Homo sapiens: one gene and its partners. The protein of the gene in region 4 interacts with the protein of the main gene of each other region in a pairwise test. Each region holds a gene or a part of one and is shown on either strand. Other genes may lie near its edges. The genes, in order: AMOTL2, GPRASP3, ZBTB26 and L3MBTL2.

Evidence for each region.
Region 1: the proteins of L3MBTL2 (region 4) and AMOTL2 interact in binary tests that used the Homo sapiens proteins (3 or more experiments, as listed by UniProt).
Region 2: the proteins of L3MBTL2 (region 4) and GPRASP3 interact in binary tests that used the Homo sapiens proteins (3 or more experiments, as listed by UniProt).
Region 3: the proteins of L3MBTL2 (region 4) and ZBTB26 interact in binary tests that used the Homo sapiens proteins (3 or more experiments, as listed by UniProt).

Annotation. Positions count from the first base shown.
Region 1 is NC_000003.12:134,364,443-134,371,467, forward strand, and holds part of AMOTL2 (angiomotin-like protein 2), read right to left. Parts: coding exon of another isoform or gene 6,992-7,025; coding exon 6,258-6,991; intron 3,421-6,257; exon of another isoform or gene 3,362-3,420; coding exon 3,055-3,361; intron 1,986-3,054; coding exon 1,841-1,985; intron 1,468-1,840; coding exon 1,375-1,467; intron 1-1,374. UniProt on the Homo sapiens protein: Regulates the translocation of phosphorylated SRC to peripheral cell-matrix adhesion sites. Required for proper architecture of actin filaments.
Region 2 is NC_000023.11:102,744,718-102,751,742, forward strand, and holds part of GPRASP3 (G protein-coupled receptor associated sorting protein 3), read left to right. Parts: intron 1-1,261; exon of another isoform or gene 1,262-1,457; intron 1,458-3,099; 5' UTR 3,100-3,194; intron 3,195-3,981; 5' UTR 3,982-4,278; coding exon 4,279-5,922; 3' UTR 5,923-7,025. UniProt on the Homo sapiens protein: Survival and differentiation promoting protein that plays a role in the regulation of neurosynaptogenesis. Induces phosphatase PP2A activity which results in APP dephosphorylation and inhibits BACE1-mediated processing of APP.
Region 3 is NC_000009.12:122,921,508-122,928,532, reverse strand, and holds part of ZBTB26 (zinc finger and BTB domain-containing protein 26), read left to right. Parts: intron 1-7,025. UniProt on the Homo sapiens protein: May be involved in transcriptional regulation.
Region 4 is NC_000022.11:41,208,297-41,215,321, forward strand, and holds part of L3MBTL2 (lethal(3)malignant brain tumor-like protein 2), read left to right. Parts: intron 1-825; exon of another isoform or gene 826-1,399; coding exon 1,400-1,637; exon of another isoform or gene 1,638-1,655; intron 1,656-5,333; exon of another isoform or gene 5,334-5,596; coding exon 5,597-5,730; exon of another isoform or gene 5,731-6,407; intron 6,408-7,025. UniProt on the Homo sapiens protein: Putative Polycomb group (PcG) protein. PcG proteins maintain the transcriptionally repressive state of genes, probably via a modification of chromatin, rendering it heritably changed in its expressibility.

The DNA of each region.
Region 1 (7,025 bases), on a different chromosome or scaffold from region 4:
CCGCCTTCCTCCACAGGCACCCTAATCTGCCGTGCCCTTGCAGCTTCTCCTCCCCAGACTCCTCAGGGAAACCCCAGGGCTGCCCCCTCCCCTTTCTCCCTCCTTCCCTTTGACTCCTTCCCAGAGACCTTAAGCCGCTGCCATCTCACCCCACCCAGCCAGAAGAGACCAGCCTACCTCCTGCCCCACCCTGTCAATTCCTTCAGTGCTGTGTTCCCCCATTCCCTGCCCTAGTCTTTGAACCCTCTTTGAAGGAAGATAGGGGTGCTGCCAGCCAGAGCTAAGTCCTCAAGCTGCTCCTCCATTTCTGCACCCCACACTACCCTTTGTGCCATTCACAGTAGGGTTCCTGTGAAGACTCAAAGCCATGTTTACCCAGCTACCAACCACTCCCATTCCACTTCTCTGCAAACACCTTGAACAGCACTAAAGCTCCTAGTAGGAGCTCAATAAATAACTGTTCTTAGTCTCTTCTGATTGCTAGAGCCTCCTGCTGCTGAGCTCAGGGCTCCCTTTGCCACCCACCCCATGTACCTCTTGAACTGCCCAATAGCTCCTTCACCTCTGGCTGGCTCTCCACCCCTGCCATCCCCACAGAGCCCCTCTCTCAGGCCACCGGGGCTCCTAATCACCGGTTTCTAGGGCCACCCCCGTTGTTCTTTTGCATCTGTGGGAACCTGCTCCTTTCTTAAGCTCACCACTTCCTTCCTGACCTCCCTGCCATGGTACCTTCCTGGGCCTGCTCCCATTCTCTCTTGAACATCTGCCAGTTGCTTAAAACACATCTGCTAATGAATGAATAAATGGACTAGTCAATGAACTTGCCCATTCTTCAAGGATGCTTAGACCGCCCCGTTTAGAATGCATCTGTTGGTTAAGGTCTAGGATCCCATTTTTGGCTGCCTCAGATGCCTCCACTTGGCTTGCTATGGCTCAGCTCCACCATGCCCCCCTACCTCTCACATTCCCATTGCACACTCCCGACCTTTCTGTTGCCAGGAACTCCCTGGGAAGCTCTCAGACCTGTCCTTCTCCTTCACCTCATCTGTCTTCAGGGCTACCTTGCCTCCCGCACTGCCCAATGCACTGCACTGGTGGTCAGCACCGAAGCTCAGCAAATCACTGCTCCCTGGCTTTCCCTCTTGTGTCAGCTGATCTTCTTAAAAGATACAGAACTAGATCCTATTCTTCTTTGGAAGCCACTTATCCCCACTATCCCCAGATCCAGTCTAGTGTTGGGCATACAGTGGGCAGTAAACCTGCTCCCAAAGTACTACTTTGCAAGGGGGAAGGCCAATCTTCCTAGTCCAGAGGGTGTGCAGCAGTCCCATTGCCTGCACACAGGCCAGGCTTCTTAGTGGGGCCCCTACTCACTCTGAGCAAGCAGCTTGGCCACCATGTCCTGACTGCCGGCCTGGGCCTCCTGTGTCTTGCTTGCCAGGCGGCGATTTGCAGATTCCAATCTCTCTGTTTCAAGGGAAGGAAAGATGTTTTAGTGTCAGGTGAAGCTGCCAGCTTGGGATTTTTCCTGACGTCCTATCAGGATGGGGCTGTATCCTCCATATTGGGGATGGGTTCATAAGGAAACCCCAGCTCAGCTCAGGGCCCCATGGGTGGGAGCCTCCTCTGTCAAGAGCCATCATCCCTGAGGGGATCCTAGGCCCAGTACATAGAGACAAGCATCTCTCTATCAGGGCAGCTCCAAAGGGGTCTCAGCCTGGCTCTCTGAGTTCATCTGCACTTTTGACAGAGAATAGAGATTCCCAATTTTTCTCTAGAACAAAAGAAGTAAGTCCTCTGCAGAGGTTCTCCAACCTCCACCTGTGTGACTGGCTCTCACCTCTAAGATCCCGGTTGAAGTCTTGCAGCCTCCTCATTTCACTGTCCATCTTGTTCCGCATGGTCTTCTCCAGGGCCTCACGCTTGGAGGAGGCTCTGGTCAGGCTCTCATGGGCCTCAGAGAGCCGCTGGATTTCGCTTTCCAGCTGCAAGAGTCAGACAGCAGAGCTGAATGAAGGCGAGAGCTCCCAGGGAGTGATTCGAGGCTGACCCACTACTCTCCATCAGAAAAGGTGACAGATGAGAGGCCACCAAACAGGAGCAAAACCTCCAGGTGACTATGGTGGGATGGTCAGAAGCTTGTAGCCTCCGGAAGTAGAATAGACTGCTGGGACCAGCAAGCAACGGTCCCATCGGCTGCCCCAAGGACCAGATGCTGAGTGAACCCAGGGCCAGGTACTTTGGAAGTAGCTGCCTGCGGGGTGACTAAACACAGCTTCCCTGTGCCCAGTGTCCAGAAGGAAACATTCTACTCTTGGCTGGCTTCCACCAAGAAACTGAGTACAGTTGGCCAGAAGTGGGCACCGAAAGACTCCAGCCATGATGGGGTGGTTTGACCTAACTTGGACACCACAGGACAGTCAAGGGAGGCCTGAGGCCATCTGCTAAAACTGAGCCTCAGCGGAAAACTGGTAACCCTTCACTAAAGAAGCGGGCACCAGGCAGAGCTGCCTCTGCCTGGTGTCCCAGGCATCACCATCCACCCAGAGGGCCAGCTGGGCCCCGGCTGCTCCTCCCACTTGGCTGCTGGCAGGTTCCGCACGTGCTCTTAGCTGGCCTGTGATTCCAACAAGTCGCCCATTTTTTTTCCAAGAGGAGAAGTTTTCTTTTTGGCCAGGGCTGGCCTGGAACAGACTTGCTGTTGTGTGGGGGACACAAAGGGCTCTCTGTGGGAGGTGTCCATGGGAGGGGGTGTGTGCAGGGCAAGGGTGCGAGTGTGCAAGGAGCTGGTGAATGGGCTCTTTCTAATCACCACTGGCCAGCAACTGTTCATGCTCCAGGCCTGCTCTGCCGGCCTCTCGGCTGTTCCCCAGCTGTCTGGAGTCAGCTCAGGAGGGTGCATGAGGAGTGAGGGAGGTGGAAGACAGAGGGATAGGGAGAAATCCAGCCAAACAGTTTTCAGGCTCCTCTGCCTCTCCTTGGACTACCCACTCCCCAGGTAGCCCCTCGGGGTCTCTTTCTGGTCTGCCCTTCTGAAGCCCCAGCAGGGCCTACCTTCTCAATGCGGCCAGCCTTCTCCGCAGAGCTCTCCAGCTCCCTCTGCAGCCGCTCATTGTCTCTCTGCAGCCTGGCATTCTCCCTCAGCACGGCCTCCATCTGGGCCAGGTGGGCACTGCCCGAGGTGGCTGAGGAGGCCTGGGCACTCACTGGCCCCTCCACAGCAGGTGGACTGAGGGAGCTCAGGGGGCCATGGCCGAGAGCAGCTGGATGTGGGGGAGGGGGGTGCTCCTGAGATTGCTGCAGGTACTGGTACTGCTGCTGCTGTTGGAGGAACACAGGAGGCACCTGGGCCTGCAGGATCCTGGGGAACAGAAGAGACGGTGCTCAGAGACAGCACAGACCCTCATGGCTCCCACCAGAGCAGCCCGGGGTCACCCCACTCCTAGGCATACTGGGAAGATGGTTAATTATTATCAATAATTAATATATTATTAAAATTACTGCAGATAATTATTCAACCCTCTAGTGTTAGGCAGGGACCAGTAGGGAAGGCCTTTTCCAAATGTTTCTGCCTGAGGCTCTCAAGAGTCAGACAGCAGGGCTAGAGGGGATTAATGTCAGGATGCTTGTTTCATACCCGCCTCACAGTGGCTGGGGCCTTGGGGATCAGCCTGAGCAATCCTGGGCCTCCTAAGCAACTAATGCTTAAATACATCATCTTAAAAAATGCACCCTGACACTTCTAATCAATGGAAGGTTATTTTTGGGGCTGGAGGCCATGTCAATCATGACTGAGCATATAACCTTCCAGGCCCCAGGACAACTTTGGTGGCTGGGCCCCAGCAGCAACCTTGTGTCTATTACACGAGTCGCCAGTTTCAAGACTGCCAAAGCAGCACTCATTTTCTCCTTCCTATTTCAAGTCCTGCCACCCCCCACCCCCCACTCACCCAGAGTCATTTTTAGAAGACTCCAGTTAAGGTTAGAGCAATGAGACAAATGTCAGGGTAAGAGTCTGAGCTCTAGAGTCTGACAAATAGGGGTTCAAATCCCTGCTCCAGCTGTTTAACCTTGGGCGAGTGCCTCAGCCCCACAGACTGGGCATTGCTCTGTTGCATCATGAGGGTCTCCAGCCTCGCTGGGATTTGTTGAGGATGACGCTATGTAAGGCCTGGCAGAGTGCTGGGCCAGTGCTGGGCGGGTGGCAGGTGCTCCTATAATGGTGGCCCATCCTCCATCTCTTCTAGTAGGAGCCTCAGTTTACCCTCAGTTTAGAGAACAAATGTGGCCCAAACTCTTGGTTTCCTTGGGAGTAAGGGCTGCCTCTGGACTACTGTGGTCACTGAGTTCAGGGGACAATATTCTATTGGCCTCTGGCACTGGTGTAACATCACCCCCAGGGCTCCATGTTGAGGGAAGGAGCAAAGGGCAAGAGGCACGGGGAGTCCAAGGGCCTTCCTGGGACCTTGTGATTCCCAGTGTCACAACTGCCTCAGTTTCACAAAGAATCTTCCAAGTCCCAGAAGCCCCGCAAAAACCGAATTCCCCTTCTGGGTGCATCATCTCAGCACTAATGCACACCCAGCCTGCCCCTGACTCTTGCTGCCATGCAGCCTATGGCCCCCCTGCTCTTCTCAGGACCCTAGGCTAGGAGTCTAGCCCGTTTCCTAACAAATAATCTTCACTGGATCATCTGAAAGGAGATATTGGGCAGATGTATTTCTCCTACTACCTAAGGTGGGGCTTCCAGTAAGAGCTGGGAAGAGGGTCCCCACTGGAGTGCTCAAACTCTCCATTCCACTGCTAAAATGGCCATTCTCAAGGTTGCTTCAAGAACTTGCTCCCCCCTGCACTGGGCCAGGCAGACACAACTGGCATTCTTTGGGGATGACTTAGCTCTGAGAAAGAATAGCAACTCCTTTCCCTTCACACTTGCTTTCCTTTCTCCTCGTCCTCTCCCTCCCCTGCTTTTTGTTCTCCTGCAAACAGTCTACTTCCTTGCCGTGATTACTATCTTTTCCTGACAGGGTTCAATAAGGCTGGTCCAAAAGAAGAAACCACCACTCAGCTTCCGAAACTCTTCCTGACCGAGCCCTGAGAGGGGCGATAAAGTGCGAGTCTGGAGGGGTGGAGGCTGGAGAAAAACTATGAGGCTCCAACCTCTGGTTCCGCCATACCAACCCCATCATGTCACTCATTTCTCGAGAGCAAGGAAAGCCGGACGGTGGGAAAGTGGGTGTTTACTAAAGGAACACAGCAGGCATGAAGAGAACCAGACTTTGACCTTGGGCCACCAGAGGAAGAGTCTGAAATCCTTGGGGTCCCTTGGTGGGGTTTCTTGGACTCCCATAGGGGGAGATGCAGCAGTGATGGCTGTGTCTGCTTCTCTGGAAAAGATGCTGGGCAAGATGAGAAGCGTGAGGCAGGGCCTTGTTTCTAGGAACACTTATTTCTCCAAACTCTCTAGACTTCTTGCCTCCCCGGGTCTTCCTGCTTCCATTCTGGCCCCTTACAAACCATGCTCTGCATGTAGCCAGAGAGAGCATTTAGAAAAGGTAAACCAAATCACATCCCCTGAGGGCCTCCCAGCACACTCAGAATCAAACTCTAAGTCCCTACCATGGCCCAGCAGCCTCTCCTGAGCCTCACCAGAAAAGGGCCCACTTGGACCCAGAATCCTTTCCCACTGCAGGCTGCAGACGCAGGGAGCATATGGCAGGAAATGAAGAGGAGAGACAAGTAAGCTCCTGCCCTGGTGTAAGATGCTGAGAGGTCTCTAATCAGACCACTGGGCCTTTCCAGCCTCTAGTTAGGAATGCCTCCCAATAATCACAGAAAGCAAGCTGCTCATATTTTCTTAAAAAATCTCCAGAGAAGGAAGTCCCACCTTCTTCCTGCTTAACTTGGAAACAGTTTGGCAATCATTCCCAACCTTGCCTTTAGGAAGTTCTTTCTGAAATCTAACCTTTAACCCCCTGCTGCAATTTGTGTACTCTGGGGACTCTAGTTACTTGAATGCTACAGCTAAGCAGACAATGGTGCCTATCTCTGAATTAAGGCAAGGGACACCACTAACTTCTTAGGGGACCTCAGCTAAGTCCCTCTTCTCTGCCAGGCATTAGCTCTCCCTTCTCAGGTTGGAGGTGGGGTGGATCTTGCTAGCTCTGACACAAGCTGTGATCTTGAGGCTCTCCTCCCTGAGAGACCTGTGCTGGAAGAAAGCCAGGAGTTGGAAAGCCCAAGGTGGGGAGAGTTACCTGACTTCAGCATGCTGGAAGTGCGGGCTGCCGCGGGCACGGTACCGTGGGTCAGTGACAGCAGTGGTGGTCTCATGAGCTAGTACAACATGAGGGTACTGAGGTGGGGGTCCTCGGGACTCTGGGCCCTCAGCAGGGGGGCCCCTCAGTGGGGGGCCCTGCTGGTTGCGGGCCAGCTGTGGGAAGCTGTGGGAGGAGCTCATGTGGCTGGGGGCCCGGGCGCCGTTCCTCTCCAGGGACAACTGAAGGAGCCGTTCACTCAACGAGCGCACGTGCCCATGCCTCAGCTCCCGCAGGGCCTCGTCCTGCCTCCGACTGCCTCCCGGGGCCCCACGGGGATCTCGGTCCCCCGCATGTGGCCGGGTCCCTGCCTGCTGGGCCGCATAGTACTGCGAGTGGGCTTTGGCCTCCTCATAGGTGGGCAGCTCCTCTCCCTTGCTGGGCTGTGGGCATAGCCGGTAGAGGGTGTTCTCTGCCAGGTGGTTCTCACCGCCCTGGTGCTCCTGGCCCTGGGGCTCCTGCCTGGTGGCCTGCTGCAGCACCTGACTGTCCTCTGGGGCCAGGATCTCCAGGGAGGCCTGGGGGCTCCCTGTACCCCCAGTTCCAGCCCCACCCCTCAGGGCCTGCTGCTGGATGGCTAGCAGCGTGCGCGTCTCAGTCAGGTTGCCGTAGCGCAGCTGCTCCTGGATGAGGCGGTGCAGGACTGTCCCCGAGGAGTCTTCCAGTGTCCTCATGCTTCTTTGGCTTGCACACAGCTGCCTGGACAAT
Region 2 (7,025 bases), on a different chromosome or scaffold from region 4:
ACAGAAAGCAGCTGTGGGTGGCATACTCTGGGCTAAGCCCTGGGGTTACAGGCAGCAAAGACACACCTATGAATTAGCATTGATCTGCAAACCACAGAGGGTACCATGGAATTGTCATGATTCAGTAGCCCCTCACCTCCTTCAACCCTTGACTGACTATACCGTCTACAATGTGCTGAGAATACAGTGGGGAACAATACCAAAAGGGTACTTTCATTCAGGAAACTTCCAGTCTAACAAGTCAAACTCCCCATCGCTTGGAAGGGAGAGTAAAAAAATATATATATATTCAGAAGAAAAAAGCACATGCATGCATTAGGCAGGGTGCAAGGCTGGGAGAAAAGGAGGAGTTGAGGAGCGCAGCTGGAATCTGGGATCTGCCTCGAGGAAGTGCGCGAATAGTGGTCCCCTCTCCTCCCAGAACAGTGGAGAGGCGCCAAGACCATCCCTACCTGGTGCCATCAAAGAGAGAGGACTGTTACGACCTCCTGCGAGTCCTGACAGGGAAAGGCCCTCTTTTGGGGTCAACTGTGGGGACGGCGCAATGCCAACCTGAGCCACCATTTGAAATGAGAAAAAGCGGCGTGGCAGAAAGAAATGAGTCTGGTACAGACCAGTGGTTGGTTTCCTAGGGTTAGAGGTCTAGGTCTACCTTCTGTTAGAAGAGGGGCAGTGGTGAGGCCTTGATGGGAGCCCCCTGCCCCAGAATTCACTTAAGAGCAGGTGTACCTTCCTCCCCTGCGTGGCTCCATGAAGCTGGGAAAGAAACGCACAAGAGGACCACCCTAGAGGCCCAGGCTTGTTTGGCCTGAAATCGCCTCACCCCTCCCAGACTGCACTGCTGACACCCCCTCTCCCATTAGCTTCCAGGAAGGAGAGTGAGAGGGCTGGGGAGAGGGAAGGGGCAGACACCCAGCAGTCCCTGGTTGGGGAGTTGGGGCGGGGGTGCAGACACACCAAGGGGCGGTTTGGTATCCATCCGCTGCTCCCTCCAGCGCGGCTCTTCCCAACCTCCTGATCCTGTCCCCTGCCTGGGTCCCCAGCCGCCCGCCCGTCCCTATATTATAGCAACGCCAGAAATGTGGTGGTGGTGGTCGCCACGTTAGGGTCCGCGGGGGTCCTCCTGAGGCAGCCTGGTGCCAACCCGCAGGCCCAGGCTGGGGCTCGTCATGGCCCCGCCCACCTCTGGGTCGGAACTAAGGTGGGCCTGAGAGGGGGGCGTCGAGCACTTTCGCGCCGTATCCCTCCGCCCCCCTTCCCGACACCCTCGCGGAGAGAGCGGTTCTTGCAGCATCCTGCGCAGCCCCTGCCCAGTTTGGTGCAGAGGCGTGGGGGGCGGGACGCGTCTTTGCCATTCTGATAGCGGGGAAAGCGGTGAGAATCGAAGTGAGGAGCCGCCAGAGGAGAGCTGAGGAGAGGAGGGGGAGGTCGACGACCTGGGCCCTGGGCCTCTGAAGGCAAGTGGGGGTGCGTGAGCTTGGGGTGGTCCGCCAGGGTGGACCGGCTGGCAGCCTGCCCCGCCGACCCTGACATCCTGGCAAGGAGGAGACGATCCGGTCGGAGCCGGTCGCCGGAGAGAGGTGCGCAGTGCTCGAGACCCCTGGCGATGGGGAGGCGGTGACCGGTGCAGGCCGAGCCAGGCCAAGGGCTGAGGGGCTGGCTTGAGAGGCACCGTCAGATCGTCTGGAGGAGAACCGCGCTGACCGCCTCCAAGCCAGCTTTGCAGGCGCCGGCGCCCCGCCCTCGACGGTGTCTGTGCCCGGAAAGGGCTGTGGGGGAGCTCCTGCGGGAGAAATGGCGGAGCGGGAGCCATTGTGGGGGGCTCCCGGGAAGGCCGGGGGGAGCCGGCGTCCCAGCTCTGTGCCCAGCCCACGAGAGGTGGGCCGCGTTCGCTACTCGGGGCCCTGATTCCGGAAAGGGGCCTGTGGGACCCCGTGTCTTGGGTGCTGTCCCTTCCCACAGGCTCCAGGTGGTTGTTAAAGTCTCCTGTCTGCGTGATAGGTCTGTTGGGTTCTCCAAAAGTGGAACTTTGAGTGGGTGAATTATGAAGACACTAAAATGAAATGTTTAACCGCCTTTTATAATACCGCACTGTTTTATTGCCTTACATATTTAGATCCCCACATCCAGTTTTGTGCAAGCAAATAGGGTGTGGACTTAGTCGAATTTCACAACAGTGGTCCATGTAAATAACAGGGTAGTATTTTTCCACCTTTCTTGTTCAGGATCTGTTTTCTCAACATGCTGATCCACTTTAAGTAATGTAATGATGTGTGAGAATGTGGGTTCCGAGTAGAGGGGTAATCTTTTTGAAGGGTCAATTTAGAACATTTGAAGTCAATCTGCTTCTTCAGTTTATGGTTCTGGAAACCAAAACTCCATCTCCAGCCACTCCTCACAGACCCTCTCATTTTGGTGCAGAAATAGTCCCACAGAAGAATTCATGGCATTTCTGATGGTGGATATCTGAGGAGCTATGAGAGTTGGGAGACTTTATTTACTTAGTTTCTGATTCTCAAAAAGGAGGTGTTAGAATCCGAATTCTGGGAATCTGTCCATTAACCTGCTATTTTTCTACCATTGTTAACATAGTCTCTTGGGGTTATTTTTTGCTAGTTGCTCCGCCTTCTTTTTGTAGGGCGTGACTCTTCTTTGGTGGGAAGGATAGCATCTCCTGAGAACTCCTGCTGTATAAGCAGGCTGACATAGGTGGTGAATAAAGTAGGATCTAGGTATGCATGGGGAAGGGGAAGGACATGCACAGATGGTATTAAAATAACAGTCTCCATTATGTTCCCTGCCTGCCTTGTAAGTACAATTGCCTATGTTCCACTACCTATTTCTGCACCTCATTTTTTTTGGTTCAGGAAAGGAGCTGTAACTTCTATTGGGAAAATGACTGACTTCAAAGTTGGCAGGAGGTGTAATCAGGCTGCAGGTCTTGGGGTGATTAGGGAATCATTGAGGAAGAGCAGACAGGTGGGAGACATTTAACATAGCCTTGAATATTCAAAAGCATATGTTATAATCCTTGTTATAGGCATTAGATCATCTTAGTCTCTTCTGTTTTCTTTCCTCTGCCTTCCTTTCTATCCTTAGGTCTGTTTCTTTCTAGGTTCCTGTAGAGATCTGTATGTAGCTGTTCACTTGGAAGTTAATTAAGAAAGAACAAAAACTATTCATTTGGATTCAAGGTAGGTTTATGTGTGAGCACCCCCGTTGATTGGGGTTATGGAAAGGCTGTTGCCAAGTGGGTTAGACCAGATCATATCTTGGTGCCACTGTCTTCCATCTTTCTAGTCACCTCTGACCTCACATTTGTGTACAAGTGATGGGGTGGGGTGAGCCAGGATTATGCCTATGAGGTAATTGGTAGATATTGGGGCAGGAAATGGGAAGATAAGCCACAAGGAGTACTAGGAGGCCAGAAGTGTTATATAACCAAAGCCCTAGATTTGGAAAGGCAGAAATTGGGTTTAGAGATTAGAGTGTAGGTCTGTCAACCAAATACTCAGAACTCCAATCCCATCTGTATTTTTGTCCATAGGCCTGCCCATGAGTTAACTATAGGGCATATCAACACTGCAAACAGGGAAGGAGGAAAAATTGCACTAGATCAGTGCAGGTTGGTGTGAGTGCTGCCTGAATACACCTATGAGGTCTAGTGGTATATATTTTAGTGGTGGACCTACTAGCATGGGTCCAAAGAGACTGGGCACTCCTTTAGCCTTTCTCACTCTCAGCAAGCTTACCTGCCATCTTTGTTCCTGTTTGATGCAGAGTAAAAGAATGACAGTGCTTGGGCAGGACATTGTTGAGCATTAGTGGCAGTGTGCAAGGTATAAAATTAAGTAGCAGAGTTTTTTATTAATCCACTTCTACACAATTCATTTCTACTCTCCTATGTCCTTCTGTGTGGCTGTTTGCATAGAGAAGCACAGTTAGACAAGACTCAAAGCCAGTTTCTTTCTTCAACCTCAGGTCCATCTCCACTGGTGGCTGTGGTGGCTTTGGATTGTTGGAAGACCATCACCTTCAGCAGGTCTGCACTTGGGAACAATCATTCTCCCCCAGCCCGAGCGTGCCTCTGCCCTCTGTATCATTGACAGAGGCTGTATGTTTGGAAAGAGAACTTTGTGACTGCAGAACTGACAGTTGACTCTAATTCTTGCTACCAAGTTTTTCCCCGACCCAGTGAAAGAGTGTTAAGACTTCGACCTAGGACACATTGAGAACCAAGGCCAAGACTGGACAGGGCCATATAACTGGGCTTCAACCATGGCTGGGACTAAGAATAAGACAAGAGCCCAGGCCAAAACTGAAAAAAAGGCTGCTATACAAGCTAAAGCTGGAGCAGAGAGGGAGGCTACTGGTGTTGTTAGGCCTGTAGCCAAGACCAGGGCCAAAGCAAAAGCCAAGACAGGGTCTAAGACAGATGCAGTAGCAGAGATGAAGGCAGTGTCTAAGAACAAGGTTGTTGCTGAGACGAAGGAAGGAGCTCTGTCAGAGCCTAAGACTCTGGGCAAAGCCATGGGAGATTTCACTCCCAAGGCTGGGAATGAGTCCACCAGCTCCACATGTAAAAATGAGGCTGGTACTGATGCCTGGTTCTGGGCTGGGGAAGAGGCCACTATCAATTCCTGGTTCTGGAATGGAGAAGAGGCTGGTAATAGTTTCAGCACTAAGAATGATAAACCTGAAATTGGTGCCCAGGTCTGTGCTGAGGAGTTGGAACCTGCGGCTGGGGCCGATTGCAAACCTAGGTCAGGGGCTGAGGAGGAGGAGGAAGAGAATGTTATTGGGAACTGGTTTTGGGAAGGAGATGATACTAGTTTTGACCCTAATCCTAAACCTGTGAGCAGGATAGTTAAGCCTCAGCCTGTGTATGAAATTAATGAAAAAAATAGGCCCAAGGACTGGTCTGAGGTAACTATCTGGCCCAATGCCCCTGCTGTAACTCCAGCTGTGTTAGGATTTAGATCCCAGGCACCATCTGAGGCAAGCCCTCCTTCATATATTGTTCTGGCCTCCGCTGAAGAAAATGCCTGTTCTTTGCCTGTGGCAACAGCTTGCCGCCCTTCTAGGAACACTCGCTCATGCTCACAGCCTATCCCTGAGTGTCGTTTTGATTCTGACCCCTGCATCCAGACCATAGATGAGATTAGACGTCAAATCAGGATCAGGGAGGTAAATGGGATTAAGCCATTTGCTTGTCCTTGCAAAATGGAATGCTATATGGATTCTGAGGAATTTGAAAAACTTGTTAGCTTACTTAAGTCAACTACTGATCCTCTTATTCATAAAATAGCACGGATTGCAATGGGTGTCCATAATGTTCACCCATTTGCCCAAGAGTTTATTAACGAAGTAGGTGTAGTGACACTTATTGAAAGCTTGCTCAGTTTTCCTTCCCCTGAAATGAGAAAAAAGACTGTAATTACTCTGAATCCTCCTTCTGGGGATGAAAGACAACGCAAAATTGAATTACATGTTAAGCATATGTGTAAAGAAACCATGTCATTTCCTTTGAACTCACCGGGACAGCAATCTGGATTAAAGATACTAGGACAACTGACTACTGATTTTGTCCATCACTACATTGTTGCCAATTACTTTTCAGAGCTTTTCCATTTGCTGTCCTCAGGAAATTGCAAAACCAGAAATCTTGTTTTGAAACTACTTTTAAATATGTCTGAAAATCCAACTGCAGCCAGAGACATGATCAATATGAAGGCATTGGCAGCATTAAAACTCATCTTTAACCAGAAAGAGGCAAAAGCCAATCTTGTTAGTGGTGTGGCCATATTTATTAACATAAAGGAGCATATCAGAAAAGGCTCAATTGTAGTTGTTGATCACTTGAGTTATAATACACTCATGGCCATTTTCAGGGAAGTTAAAGAGATTATTGAAACAATGTAAAATGAGCCAGAGATAGAACATTTTAAGCCATCTTCAAACTCTAGCAGGCTGTACATTACAGTGTACACATTATACACTGCATCTTTAACACAGAGTCACCTGTGACAGGCTCTAGGTTTGAGCTAGACTATTTTGGGGGTATCAAATGAATATTATACCTTGGGCTGAAAATGTTTGATTTTTATCTTGTCTAGATTGGCATATTTTTAACATTTTACTTAAGATAGCAAACCAGTTCGTTTTAAGTAAGCTAACTTGTTCATTAGTATCTGTGGCTTAAAATGGCAAAAAAGAAAATATCCTTGAGTTTGTAATCTAGTTACAGAAGTAAGGCATACACACACACAAAGATAACAGTACCTAGAGAGAGAGTGTGTGTGAGTGTGCGTGTCTCTGTGTGTGCACGTGCACGCTCATGGCCAAATGTGCGCACTCTACATAAAGGAGGCAGGAGTTCCTATAGGCTATTTAATGTAAGAGAAACTATTTTTCTCCTGTTCCAGCTGTATCAGATACTCGTTCCGCAACACAGAAATGACTCAGAATCTCAGACAAAATGTATTATTTGTTCAATTTTAATTTTGCTACTACATTCATAACTCTTAAATTGTTAGGCTGTTTCATTTACATCAAAGTTATCTCACAAAAGAGAAGGCAGGAAACGTTTTGTGAGTGCCTATTCTATGTCAAACACTGTGTTGGCACCATATTTTACAAGTTTTTTTCCTCTTCTCACAGTGATCTTGTGAGTTAGTTACTTATATTTTTATTAGAACTCATTATTCTGGGTACCCTCCAATGAGAATTAGAGAGGTTAAATACCTTTTCCTAGATTCCCACAGCAGGAAGGTGGCATAGCTGTTTTGTCTGACACCAGAACCCATCTCACCACACTGCTTTACAGTCTTCCTGAAGGACATTTTGAGGTGGGGGGGCCTTCAAAGCTCAGAGACTGGTTTGAATGGTTTAATTTTGCAATGGATCATGTCCATGCCAGGTGTTACAATTCTTAACTTCCTCCAAATTCGTGTGTCCATTAGACATTTGGCTACATCTGGCTGGAGGTCAGGAGAAAATTCTGAGGTAAATAGATGGATTTTATC
Region 3 (7,025 bases), on a different chromosome or scaffold from region 4:
AACAGTTCAATAGTTAAGTAATTTGCCCACTTCCACATAACAGTTCAAAAAAAAGAACTAGGCCGGGCGTGGTGTCTCACGCCTGTAATCCCAGCACTTTGGGAGGTGGGAGGCTGAGGCATGAGAATCACTTGAACCTGGGAGGCTGAGGTTGCGGTGAGCCGAGATCACACCACTGCACTCCAGCCTGGGCAACAGAGCGAGACTTGGTCTCAAAAAATGAAAAAAAATCAAAAGAAGAATTAAATCTATATTCATCAACATAAATTGCTTTCAAAAACAATGAGTGAAAAAAGTAAGTTGCAAAACAATATGTATAGTTTATGTATAAGAAACTTAATTACGTTATACTTTTGTGGCTAGACATATAGAAGTATTGTTTTTAAAATGCCAGGAGGGGCCGGGCACAGCGGTTCATGCCTATAATCCCAGCACATTGGGAGGCCGAGGCGGATGGATCACTTGAGGTCAGGAGTTCAAGAACAGCCTGGCCAACATGGTGAAACCCCATCTCTACTAAAAATGCAAAAATTATCCGGGCTTGGTGGTGCATGCCTGTAATCCTAGCTACTCAGGAGGCTGAGGCAGGAGAATTGCTTGAACTCGGAGGTGGAGGTTGCAGTGAGCCAAGATTGCACCACTGCACTCAAGCCTGGGCAACAGAGCAAGACTCCGTTTCAAAAAATAATAAATAAATATATAAATAAATAAACAAAATGCAAGGAGGGAGAGTCAGGAAGGATCAAACTTAAACTGAATACTGAGTGGTAGGCAGTTGAGAAGGGGAATTACATCTAAAATCTTCAAAAATTTTTCAAGAAGAATACATTCTGTATATATTACTTAAAAGTTGAAACAAAAGCTTGATAACTTGGAGAGTATCGTGTCATGAAAGTTACCTAAAAGAAGAACAAGATTAAGGTTTATAGAGAGAAAGGCTGTAGTATAATACAGCCTCTTTAGAAAAAGAACATACCATGTCAATGAGGGACAAAGATTTCCAAGTAGTTTTGAGTGGTAAGTTGAAAGATAAGGGCACTTTTATGAGACAGGTGAGGAAGCAAACTGATACCTAGCTTAAGAATTTATTATACAGATAGAAAAATTTTACTTGCCAGTAGTTATTAGAAGCATTTGAGAAAAGAAACTATTTTCTCACTGCCTGTAGTATAGCAATTTACATTGTCCCACCTGGAATATTCAGTAATTAGTCATTTTTTACTATCCTCATTTGAACAAAGGGAAAATTTCAAATTAGTTATAATTGTGGAAGGATTGTATAAATATAAATGAAGAGGAAGTGAGAATATTCCCATTACATTGATGTTTGAGAAATATCATTCAAAACTTGCTAATAGAAACTCAACAGTATTCAGATTTAATCTCAGTAACTGAGGCAATAGATAATAAAGACCTGAACTATGGCAATGATGTAAGAATGGAGGAGTGAGGAGTTGGTGATCATTCTGAGGAAAGAATCAACAAAATATGATGACTGTGTCTCTGATCTACCTGATCAGTTCTTTACTTTCCTTCAGTTACAAGAAGCTTGACTATAACCTAGAATTATCTGAGTGATTTTTATGATTATTTTGAGTAATTACTGCTATACTTAGAAGTTACCTACAGTTGGGGATTGTGAAATCAAATATATTCATAATTTTTATTGTCTGCTTTATTTGCAAATGGCATTAAGTTTCAGTCCACAAAGATAAATACACAAAAGATGGAAAATAATATAAAGTAAAATAGATGAGAAAGGTATAATAAGGATAAAGGCATAATATGCAATCAGGAATATGACTAATACATATATGCTTGCCATTTAAGTCTTCTAATTTCATGCAAATTTGGCTTGAAGTTATAACTTGTTTTTAAACATAAACCTTTTTTTGAAGCATAACAAAAACAAAAATATACAAGTCATAAGTGTGCAGCTCAATGAATTTTCTTGGCCTGTGTTTGTGATACTGAATGTAAGGAAGGAAATCTGAAGAGTTACACAATTTTTTTTTTTTTTTTTTTTGAGACGGAGTCTCGCTCTGTCGCCCAGGCTGGAGTGCAGTGGCACAATCTCAGCTCACTGCAAGCTCCACCTCCCGGGTTCACGCCATTCTCCTGCCTCAGCCTCCCGAGTAGCTAGGACTACAGGTGCCCGCCACCACTCCTGGCTAATTTTTTTTTTTGTAGTTTTAGTAGACACGGGGTTTCACCGTGGTCTCGATCTCCTGACCTCATGATCTGCCCACCTCGGCCTCCCAAAGTGCTGGGATTACAGGTGTGAGCCACCGCACCTAGCCGAGTTACACAATTATTATCCTTGAGATAAAACTGTACCAGCCAGGTGCAGTGGCTCACACCTGTAATCCCAACACTTTGGGAGGCTGAGGCAGACAGATTACCTGAGGTCAGGAGTTCAAGACCAGCCTGGCCAACATGGTGAAACTCCATCTCTACTAAAAATCCAAAAATTAGGCCTGGCGCAGTGGCTCATGCCTGTAATCCCACCACTTTGGGAGGCCGAAGCAGGTGAATCACCCGGGTCGGGAGTTCGAGACCAGCCTGACCAACATGAAGAAACCCCGTCTCTACTAAAAATACAAAATTAGCCAGGCGTGGTGGCGCCTGCCTGTAATCCCAGCTACTGGGGAGGCTGAGGCAGGAGAATCACTTGAATCCGGGAGGTGGAGGTTGCGGCAAGCCCATTGCACTTCAGCCTGGGTGACAAGAGTGAAACTCTGTCTCCAAAAAAAAAAAAAAAAAAAAATTAGCTGGGCATGGTGGCAGGCACCTGTAATCCCAGCTACTCAGGAGGCTGAGGCAGGAGAATCACTTGAACCCAGGAGGCAGAGGTTGCAGCAAGCCGAGATCACGCCATTGCACTCCAGCCTGGGCAACAAGAGTGAAACTACATCTCAAAACAAGAAAAAAAAAATTGTACCTAGATTAGTTGTTTCATACCTGGATTTTGGCATCATGCAGTGTAAACCACCAGTTCCAGATCTAACACTTAACACTTTCAACCTCCGTTGGGGTTTACAAGTTATTTATGTTTTCTAAGCTTAGTTTCGTCATATACAAAATGTGGGATAATGGTAATACTTACCTGTAGAAATTTTCACGATTAAATGGGTCAATTTATTTATTTATTTATTTATTTATTGTGATAGGATCTGGCTCTTTCACCCAGACGAGTGCAGTGGCATGATCATGGCTCACTGCAACGTCTGCCTCGTGGGCTCAAGCCATCCTCCCATTCAGCCTCCCAAGAAGCTGGGACTACAGGCGCATGACACCACGCCCAGCTAATTTTTGTATTTTTTGTAGAGACGGGGTTTCACCGTGTTGGCCAGGCTGATCTCAAAGTCCTGAGCTCAAGCAGTGTGCCCACTTCAGCCTCCCAAAGTGCTGGAATACAGGCATGAGCCACTGTGCTCGGCCTAAATGGGTCAATTTAGGTATAACATCTATACCTGAAATGTAGCAAGGAAGATTAGGTATCATTTCTCTTATTTTTAAATAAAATTAAGATGGTTCATAAGAAACTTTTTTTAACTATCAAAAAAAATTTTTTTTAAGTGTTTAAAACAGGTTCATGCCTGTAATCCTAGCACTTTGGGAGGCCTTGTGGGAAGACTGCTTGAACCCAGGAGTTTTAGGTTACAGCGAGATTTGATTGCGCCACTACACTCCAGCCTAGGCAACACAGCGAGACCCTGCCTCTACAAAAAATAAAAACATTAGCTAGGTGTGGTGGTGTGCACCTGTAGTCCTGGCTACTCAGGAGGCTGAGGCAGGACGATTGTTTGAGCCTTGGTGCCAAGGCAGCAGTGAGCTATGATTACGCCACTGCATTCTAGCCTGGGTGACAGATGACAGAGTGAGACCTTGTCTCAAAAAAAAAAAAAAAAAAGAAAGTTGAAATTTGGTTTTATATTGCCAAAACTATTTTGGTAACAAACCCTAGAAAGAAAGCTTTCCCTAGGCACTCAAAAGAAGATATCATAATGAAGAGCATCTGTACCATAGCCTAGTAATAATTTCATGGGGGAACATTAAGAACTCATTATTCTTCTGTTTTTTGTCAAATGAGCTGTATAAAGTATAACAAACCATTGGTCATTGCCCTCAAATAACTAACAGTCTATTGGAAAGAGAAACTAGTGAAAGGAAACAATTAAGGGATAAGATGTGTGGCCTGGAAATAAGAATTTATCAGAGAGAGACAATAGAGTGGGCTGACACATCCTAGGGAAAACATCCTTTAAGAAACCAATAAATTTTGCTCACATTCTTAGACTACAGCAGACAGATCAAAGCAAACACTTCCCTGAACTATCTGGTTGGCTGCTGTTGTTGATAATTTTCTTGAGAACTGATGGATAGGAAGCACAGTCATGCATCACTTAACAACTGTGATGTGTTTTGAGAAATGCGTCGTTAGGTGATTTCATCATTTTGTGAATATCACGGAGTATACTTAATGCAAACCTAGATGGTATAGCCTACTACACACCTGGGTTGTATGACACAGCCTGTTGCTCCTTGGTTATAAACCTGTACCACATGTTACTATACTGAATACTGTAGGCAATTGTAACACAATGGTGTTTGTGTATCTAAATATAGAAGAGGTACAGTAAAAATATGGTATTATATTCTATGGGACCATCATTGTATATGCAGTTCATTGTTGAACAAAACACTGTCATATGACACATGACTAAATGAAACTACACTCCAGCTCTTCATCTTTAGAGCAAGGAACAATTGTCTCTGAGGATAGTTGTCTAAAGCATTGTGAGTACTGTCATAATATAGGTAGAACCAATGAATGCTTATTTTGGGGTGTGAGGAGGGAAATACTGATCTGAGGGTTTCATAGGCACCTTCAAAACCAGCTAAATGCTAAAAAAGAATGCCACTTTTGTTTGGCCACTTGAAACAGTCATTTTTACAACTCTGGTTACAAATTGGAACATTCATCACTCCAAATCCAAAATGAGTATTTTAAGCTACTGCAGTTGCTAAAAGTGACCAATGATAATAGTTTTGCTGCTTTAAATTACTGACATTTTCCCTGTATATCTTCTACATTTTCCCTTCATGTTTGATACTCACTGTCTTTTCTCTGATGTTTCATTTGCTTGTCTACATCGCTCCTCTCTCAATGCAGTTTTTGTATTTATTGTGATTATCGGTACATTCAAAATGTCATACAAGGGGAAAGATTATGCTTTGTTTGTGTTTTTATTAATATACTTATTACTTCTTCTTATATTGGTGCCACACCAGTTCCCCCTCCTAAATTTCACCTCTCTTTCTTTTTTTTTTTTCTTTTTTTTTTTTGAGATGGAGTCTTGCTCTGTTGCCTAGGCTGGAGTGCAGAGGCGCAATCTCGGCTCACTGCAACCTCCACCTCCCGGGTTCAAACAATTATCCTGCCTCAGCCTCCCGAGTAGCTGAAACTATAGGCGCCCGCCACCATGCCGGGTAATTTTTTGTGTTTTTAGTAGAGATGGGGTTTCACTGTGTTAGCCAGGATGGTCTGGATCTCCTGACCTCGTGATCCACCAGCCTTGGCCTCCCAAAGTGCTCACAGGTGTGAGCCACTGTGCCTGGCCGGTCACCTTCTTTCAATGCCATTCTCATTCAAATGAACTCCTAAATGTAGAATCTTTACACATTCCTTTTATTCATTCTCTATATCCAGTCAGTTACCAAGTTCTTTGAAATATCTTTTGTTATTTTTCCTTTCGTCTTATTCCCATTTTTATTTCTTTCTAGGCCATCATGGCCTCAGACCTGCAATGCTTCTGCAGACACTAAGCTGGTCTTCCTAACAACAGTTCTTCCTTACCACTGTCAAACTAATCTGATAGGTTCAACTAATGCAAACTGAGCACTTGCTGTGTATTTAGTGCAGTCTTAGGCGATGGGAATACACACTGATTTGAACAGAAGAGGGTTTGGCCAGTAATGGGACAAGCAATGTAGCTGCAATAAGTATAATATAATTCAAAGCAAAAGTAAAGAATATTTTGTCTTAGAAGATGCAAGTTCCCAGCATTAGATGGAGATACTTCCCCCTAATACCATGAAACTTGGAGTTTGGATGGGAAGGAATAAGTATTTAATAAAGTGTGTTGAGTGTTACAGTAGAAGTATGCAATGGGCCCAGAAGAGACAATTCTACTCTATTAAGCGGTCAGGGAAGGGCCTCTCAGAGAAAATAAAGGAGTCACAATTGTTTAGAAAGTGGTGTTTTTGTTTGTTTTATTTTACTTTGTTTTTTTAGACAGAGCCTCATTCTGTCACCCAGGCTGGAGTGCAATGGCACAATCTCGGCTCGCTGAAACCTTCACCTCCCAGGTTCAAGTGATTCTCCAGCCTTGGCCTCCTGAGTAGCTGGGACTACAGGCACGTGCCACCACACCTGGGTAATTTTTGTATTTTTCATAGGGACAGGGTTTCACTATGTTGGCCAGGCTAGTCTCGAACTCCTGACCTCGTGATCCACCCACCTCAGCCTCCCAAAGTGCTGGGATAACAGGCATGAGCCACCATGCCTGGCTTGTTTTTTGTTTTGGTTTTTGTTTTTGTGATGGAGTTTTGCTCTTGTTGCCCAGGCTGGAGTGCAGTGGTGCAATCTTGACTCACCACAACCTCTGCCTCCCGGGTTCAAGTGATTCTCCAGCCTTAGCCTCCTGAGTAGCTGGGACTACAGGCATGTGCCACTACGCCCAGCTAATTTTGTATTTTTAGTAGAGATGGGGTTTCTCCAAGTTGGTCAGGCTGGTCTTGAACTCCCGACCTCAGGTGATCCGCCTGCCTTGGCCTCCAGAAGTGCTGGGATTACAGGCGTGAGCCACCATGCCCAGCCTAGAAAGTAGTGTTTTAAACTAAGGAAACAAGTATCATTAGGTCTGGAGCCAAGAGAGAGCTGTTATGTATCAGGCATTAAGGAATAAGAATAAAACCTGGACTCTGCCATCAGGAGCTGATATCCATTGTTACAGAAGTTA
Region 4 (7,025 bases):
TTTTTTTTTCTTTTGTAGAGATGGGGTGTGGCTGTGTTGCCAAGGCTGGTCTCAAACTCCTGGGTTCAAGCAATCCACCTGCCTCAGCCTCCCAAAGTGCTGGGATTACAGATGTGAACCACCGTACCCAGGCTCTTCACACGTTTTCTGTTACATGCTGGGTAGATTCATATACATTATCTCATTTGCATCTCACGAGTCAAATATTTTTATTTTATAGATGAGAAAGTTGAAGCCCACAGAAGTTAAATGACTTGCCCAAGGCCCTATAGCTAGTTAGGCTCAGAGCTGAATCTAGCGCTGTAGTACACACCAAGATGCCACAGTTATCTGTGTGTCATCTGCCTCTCCCATCCTCTTTGGAGCAGTCTAGGTCCCAAATTAACTTTTCTGTGACTTAAATTGTTTCTGAGTTGAGATCATTTTGATGTATATTGAACGGGGAAGAATTTTTGTTTTTCTTTTTGAGACAGCATCTCACTCCATTACCAGGCTGGAGTGCAGTGGCGCGATCTTAGCTCGCTGCAACCTCCACCTCCCGGGTTCAAGCAATTCTCTGCCTCAGCTTCCCAAGTACCTGGGATTACAGGCACCCGCCACCACACCCAGCCAATTTTTGTATTTTTAGTAGAGACGGGGTTTCACCATCTTGGCCAGGTTGGTCTTGAACTCCTGACTTCGTGATCCACCCACCTTGGCCTCGGAAAGTGCTGGGATTACAGGTGTGGGCCACTGTGCCTGGCTAAGAATTAATTTCTAATATATCTTCTACCCCAGAAAGTCTTTGTGAAGTACCTTAGGATATTTCACTTTTTTTTTTTTTTTGAGATGGAGTCTTGCTCTGTCACGCAGACTGGAGTGCAGTGGCACGATCTTGGCCCACTACAACCTTTGCCTCCTGGGTTCAAGCAATTCTCTGCCCCAGCCTCCCAAGTAGCTGGACTACAGGTGCCCGCCACCACGCCTGGCTAATTTTTTCTTGTATTTTTTTGTAGAGACAGGGTTTCACCCTCTTGGCCAGGCTGGTCTCGAACTCCTGACCTCAGGTGATCTGCCAGCCTCGGCCTCCCAAAGTGCTAGGATTACAGGCATGAGCCACCGCACCTGGCCCACATTGTTATACAGTATTCTATTTGAACCATGTTAAAATATCATCATTTGTAAATCCACAGAGGAGCCTGGTGAATTCCTAACACATATTTTCTGTCTTGTTAAGCTGTTGAATTGCATCATGGTGGAGAAATGTGTAAATAGAAGTAATGATCTTGGTGTTTGTAAAAGGGGTATTTGAAAGGTTCCCGAAAGTGTGAGGGGGCTGATAGCAGATCTGCAGCTTCTCCCCCCGTGCACTAAAGCCAATCATAATTCTTTCTACCTGGTTTGTGTCATCCTCCATTAGGAGACCCCATCTTCAGAACCAATGGAGGAAGAGGAAGATGACGACTTGGAGCTGTTTGGTGGCTATGATAGTTTCCGGAGTTATAACAGCAGTGTGGGCAGTGAGAGCAGCTCCTATCTGGAGGAGTCAAGTGAAGCAGAAAATGAGGATCGGGAAGCAGGGGAACTGCCGACCTCCCCGCTGCATTTGCTCAGCCCTGGGACTCCTCGCTCCTTGGATGGCAGTGGTTCTGAGCCAGGTGCCTTCAGAGTGTCCCCTGAGGATGGAGAGGAGATAGAAGATTATAGAGGAAGAGGGGGGTGGATATAGGCTATATGGGCAGAGCCATCCAGATGTAAAAGGCTATTAACTCTGATTTCTAAGGGATCAGATGTGTAAGGACCTGTAAGGGAGACAGAAGCACCCCAAGTAGCCACTGTGTTAACTTCCTTTGCTGAAGTCTAATTTCTTTTTTTTTTTTTTTTTTTTTTTGAGACTTGAGTGTCGCCCTGTTGCTCAGGATGGAGTACAGTGGCATGATCTCGGCTCACTGCAACTTCCACCTCCTGAGTTCAAGTGATTCTCATGCCTCAGCCTTCCAAGTAGCTGGGACTACAGGCACCCACCACCACATCCAGCTAACTTTTGTATTTTTTTGTTTGTTTGTTTGTTTGAGACGGAGTCTCGCTCTGTTGCCTAGGCTGGAGTGCAGTGGCGCGATCTCGGCTCACTGCAAGCTCTGCCTCCCGGGTTCACACCATTCTCCTGCCTCAGCCTCCTGAGTAGCTGGGACTACAGGCGCCCGCCATGACGCCCGGCTAATTTTTTGTATTTTTAGGAGAGACAGGGTTTCACCACGTTAGCCAGGATGGTCTCGATCTCCTGACCTCGTGATCCACCCGCCTCGGCCTCCCAAAGTGCTGGGATTACAGGCGTGTGCCACCGCGCCAGCCTAACTTTTGTATTTTTAGTAGAGGCGGGGTTTCACCATGTCGGCCAGGCTGGTCTCAAACTCCTGAACTCAGGTGATCCACCCACCTCAGCTTCCCAAAGTGCTGGGATTACAGGAGTGAGCCACTGTGCCCGGCCCTAGTCTAATTTCAAATTGTGACTTCACTCATTCTTTCATATAACTAATGTGTATTCAGCACAGATTAGATGCCACTGAGTAGCATGGTGCTGCTTTTTTGTATAAGTATACCATGGATTTCCAACGTGGATGTTGAGAAGATAGGAAACCTAAAGTGTTTTGGTTACTTTCTGAGAAGGGACAAATAACTTGTGGTTTGGAAGTCAGGGTGGGAGTGGGAAGGTAATACACGATAAAGTGACCCTGGGTAGGAGGACTGGGTTGGGGGCGGGCAGATGAGAATCCCTATGGATCATCTGGAAGCCAGTTGACTTTGGAAATGTGATGCTTGGACAGCTGCTGAACCCCTGTGTCAGGGCCTCCCATGTGTGGGCTGCCTGTGAAGAGAGGCAGGCTGGATAGTCTGTGAGGACACTGCCATCCTTTAGATCCCAAACTTTTTTTGTTTTATTTTGAGGCAGGGTCTCACTCTGTCACCCTGGCTGCAGTGCAGTGGTGTGAAAATGGCTCACTGCAGCCTCGACCTCCTGGGCTCAGGCAATCCTTCCACCTCAGCCTCCTGAGTAGCTGAGACTACAGGTGCACGCCACCATGCCTGGCTAATTTTTGTATTTTTTTTTTGTAGAGACAGGGGTTTTGCCCTGTTACCCAGGCTGGTCTTGAACTCCCAAGCTCAAGTGATCCCCCACCTCAGCCTCCCAAAGTGCTAGGATTACAGGCATGAGCCACCGCACCCAGCCCCAAACTCGTTAGAAGAGTAATCTAATACTCTTTGCAGTTGAATCTTATTTCCTTTTTTTTTTTTTTTTTGAGACGGAGTCTTGCTCTGTCACCCAGGCTGGAATGCAGTGACATGATCTTGGCTCACTGCAAGTTCCGCCTCCCAGGTTCAAGCCATTCTCCTGCCTCAGCCTCCCCAGCAGCTGGGACTACAGGCGCCTGCCACCACACCCGGCTAATTTTTTTTGTATTTTAGTAGAGACGGGGTTTCACCATGTTAGCCAGGATGGTCTCGATCTCCTGACCTTGTGATCTGCCCTCCTCGGCCTCCAAAAATGCTGGGATTACAGGCGTGAGCCACCGCACCCGGCCTTTTTTTTTTTTTTTTTTTTTTTTTGAAACAGAGTCTCGCTGTGTCACCCAGGCCGGAACGCAGTGGCACGATCTTGGCTCACTGCAAGCTCCGCCTCCCGGGTTCACGCCATTCTCCTGCCTCAGCCTCCCAAGTAGCTGGGACTACAGGCGCCCTCCGCCATGCCCGGCTAATTTTTTGTATTTTTTAGTAGAGACGGGGTTTCACCGTGTTAGCCAGGATGGTCTCAATCTCCTGACTACGTGATCCGCCCGCCTCAGCCTCCCAAAGTGCTGGGATTGCAGGCGTGAGCCACCGCTCCCGGCCTTACTTCCTTTCTATTTATATTGTCTTCTTTTCATCCCTTGCCTTTTATCTTTCTCCCTTCTATCCTCTTCCAGCCCTTCTCTTAGAATCTTAGGATTTAGAACTAGAAGGAACCATTAGAGACCACTTAGACCAGGGGTTCTGCACATTAGAATCATCTAGGGGAGCTTTTAACAAACTACAGGTACCAGTATCCCGTCACAGACCAATTCATTAGAATTTTAGGTTCAGGCTTTTTTTTTTTTTTTTTTGAGACAGCGTTTCACTCTTGTTGCCCAGGCTGGAGTGCAGTGGTGCCATCTCAGCTCACTGCAACCTCCGCCTCCCAGGTTGAAGGGATTCTCCTGCCCCAGCCTCCGGAGTAGCTGGGATTATAGACGCCCACCACCGCGCCCGGCCATCTCAGGCATTTTTAAAAGCTCCCCAGGTGGGTCTAATAGTGAAGTCACGGGCCAGGCATGGTGGCTCACGCCTGTAATCCCAGCACTTTGGGAGGCCGAGGCGGGAGGATCACAAGGTCAGGAGTTCAAGACCAGCCTGCTCAACATGGCGAAACCCCGTCTCTACTAAAGATATAAAAAATTAGCCAGGCGTGGTGGCACATGCCTGTAGTCCCAGCTACTCAAGAGGCTGAGGCAGGAGAATCCCTTGAACCCGGGAGTCGAAGGTTGCAATGAGCCAAGATGGCGCCACTGCACTCCATCCTGGGCAACAAGAGCAAAACTCCATCTCAAAAAAAAAAAAAAGTGAAGTCACGATTAAAACACTGATCTAGCTGGGCGCATTGGCTCACGCCTGTAATCCCAACACTTTGGGAGGCCGACACGGCGGATCACAAGGTCAGGAGATTGAGACCATCCTGGCTAACATGGTGAAACCCCGTCTCTACTAAAAACACAAAAAAATTAGCTGGGTGTGGTGGCAGTGCCTGTAGTCCCAGCTACTCGGGAGGCTGATGCAGGAGAATGGCGTGAACCCGGGAGGCAGAGCTTGCAGTGAGCCAAGATTGCGCCAGTGTACTACTCCAGGCTGGGTGACAGAGCAAGGCTCCGTCTCAAAAATAAATAAATAAAACACTGATCTAGTTCAGTCCCTTTACTATATAGATGAGAAAATAGAGCCACAGAGGTTAAGTGACTTTGGCACTTTTTCTTCCTATAAATTTTTTCGCTTTTTTTTGAGACAGTGTCTTACTTTGTTGCCCAGGCTAGAGGTACAGTGGTGCAGTCATGGCTCACTGCAGCCTCAGCCTCCTGGGCTCAGGCAGTTTCCCCCCGCCAAATCACACCTGGCCTTTTTTTTTTTTTTTTGGGCAACAAGGTCTTGCTATGTTGCCCAGGATGGTCTCAAATTCTTGCCCTCAAGCAATCCTCCCTCCTTGGCCTCCCAAACTGCCGGGATTACAGACAGGAGCTACCATGCCTAGTTTCTTCTCACTTTCCTCTGACAAACTTTTCAACACTCACCTGTTCCCCCAGTCGTCCTCATGGATTTCCATTAGCCCCTCTGTTGACATCTGTAGCCAAGGGAGGCCAAGCAGCAGCACTTCATTCAGGTAGATTCAGGATATACACACCAGTACCTCCCATTCCTCCTCTTATTCCATTAGCCTTTGTGGGGGCAGGGGCTCACCTGGTTAATGCAGTGCCCCAGGTTTTGAAGGGCCCATCACTTTGTTTGCTTTGAGGTGGTCATATCGGGTGAGTCATGTGCTAAGTTCTCTTCCCAGCTGTCTGTGAGATGTGTGGTATCGTGGGTACAAGGGAAGCCTTCTTCTCCAAGACCAAGAGGTTCTGCAGCGTCTCCTGCTCCAGGAGCTACTCCTCCAACTCCAAGAAAGCCAGTATCTTGGCTAGGTTACAGGTGAGAGGCAATCACTTGGATCCTTCCCGGTGCCTTTGGTGCTGAGACAGGAACCACCAAGTGACTGAAGGCCAGGGCCAGGAAAGTTTGAAAAGGTCCTTGCTTGTGGCCAGCTGGTATTTATTATGTTCTCAAACTTCAGAGGACAGTAGAATCCATTTGTGGAGCTTTTTAAATTATAGGTTCCTGAAGCTACGCTCCATTACCTACCATCATCCCCCAGAGTCTGGTGTATTCAGTACATTTTAAACAAGAACTATGGGGGAGTCTGACACCCTTGGTCTTCACCCCACACTTTTATAAATCCTTTCAAAGGAAGTTGGGAAACAGGCCCAAGGTTCACCAGCCACGGTGGCTTCAGGAAGACCATGCCTCCTCGGACTCCATGTCACAGGCAGCTACCTAGAAAGTCTTGCCAATTTTCTAAATTACTGATATTTATAGAATCTTTAGAGATGGAAAGATTCTTGGATGTGGTGTTGAACCCACACATTTATTGATAAGTATACTGAGGTCCAAGGAGGTAGAATGACATACCTAGTGTGGCTCTGTAGGAGGAGAATGGCGGAATTGAGGCTGGAACCTCATCTCAGGGGCCTCATCTTACCTTGTTTCCCAGTAGCTGGGACCAGCATCTGCAACACTGCTTCCCAAATTTGCCTGCATGTTGGGATCACCTGGAAAGTTTAAAAATTATTGATGCTGGTCGGGCACGGTGGCTCACGCCTGTAATCCCAGCACTTTGGGAGACCGAGGCGGGCGGATCACGAGGTCAGGAGATCGAGACCATCCCAGCCAACATGATGAAACCCCGTCTCTACTAAAAATACAAAAATTAGCCAGGCGTGGTGTTGTACGCCTGTAGTCCCAGTTACTCGGGAGGCTGAGGCAGGAGAATCGCTTGAACTTGGGAGGTGGAGGTTGCAGTGAGCCGAGATCGTGCCACTGCACTCCAGCCTGGGGGGAAAATATTATGTAAAATATATTGATGCTTGGGTCCTACTCCGAAAGGTTCTGATTTAACTGGGATGGTGTGTAGCCTGGACAGAGATTGGAAGAGCTCCCAGGTGATCCTAATGTGCAGCGAAGTTTGAGCACCACCGATGTTTATTAGAAATTGCTGTGTCCCAGATCCTTCTGCTTACTGCTTCATACACTGTCGCCTTTGTGAGACAATTACCATTGTTTCCCCATTTTGTAGATTTTACTTAAGGCACCGAAAGATCCCTCTCTTCCGAGAGCTAAGAATAATATTGGTAATATTAATAGCTATGGTTTGGGAGTACTTGCTAAGG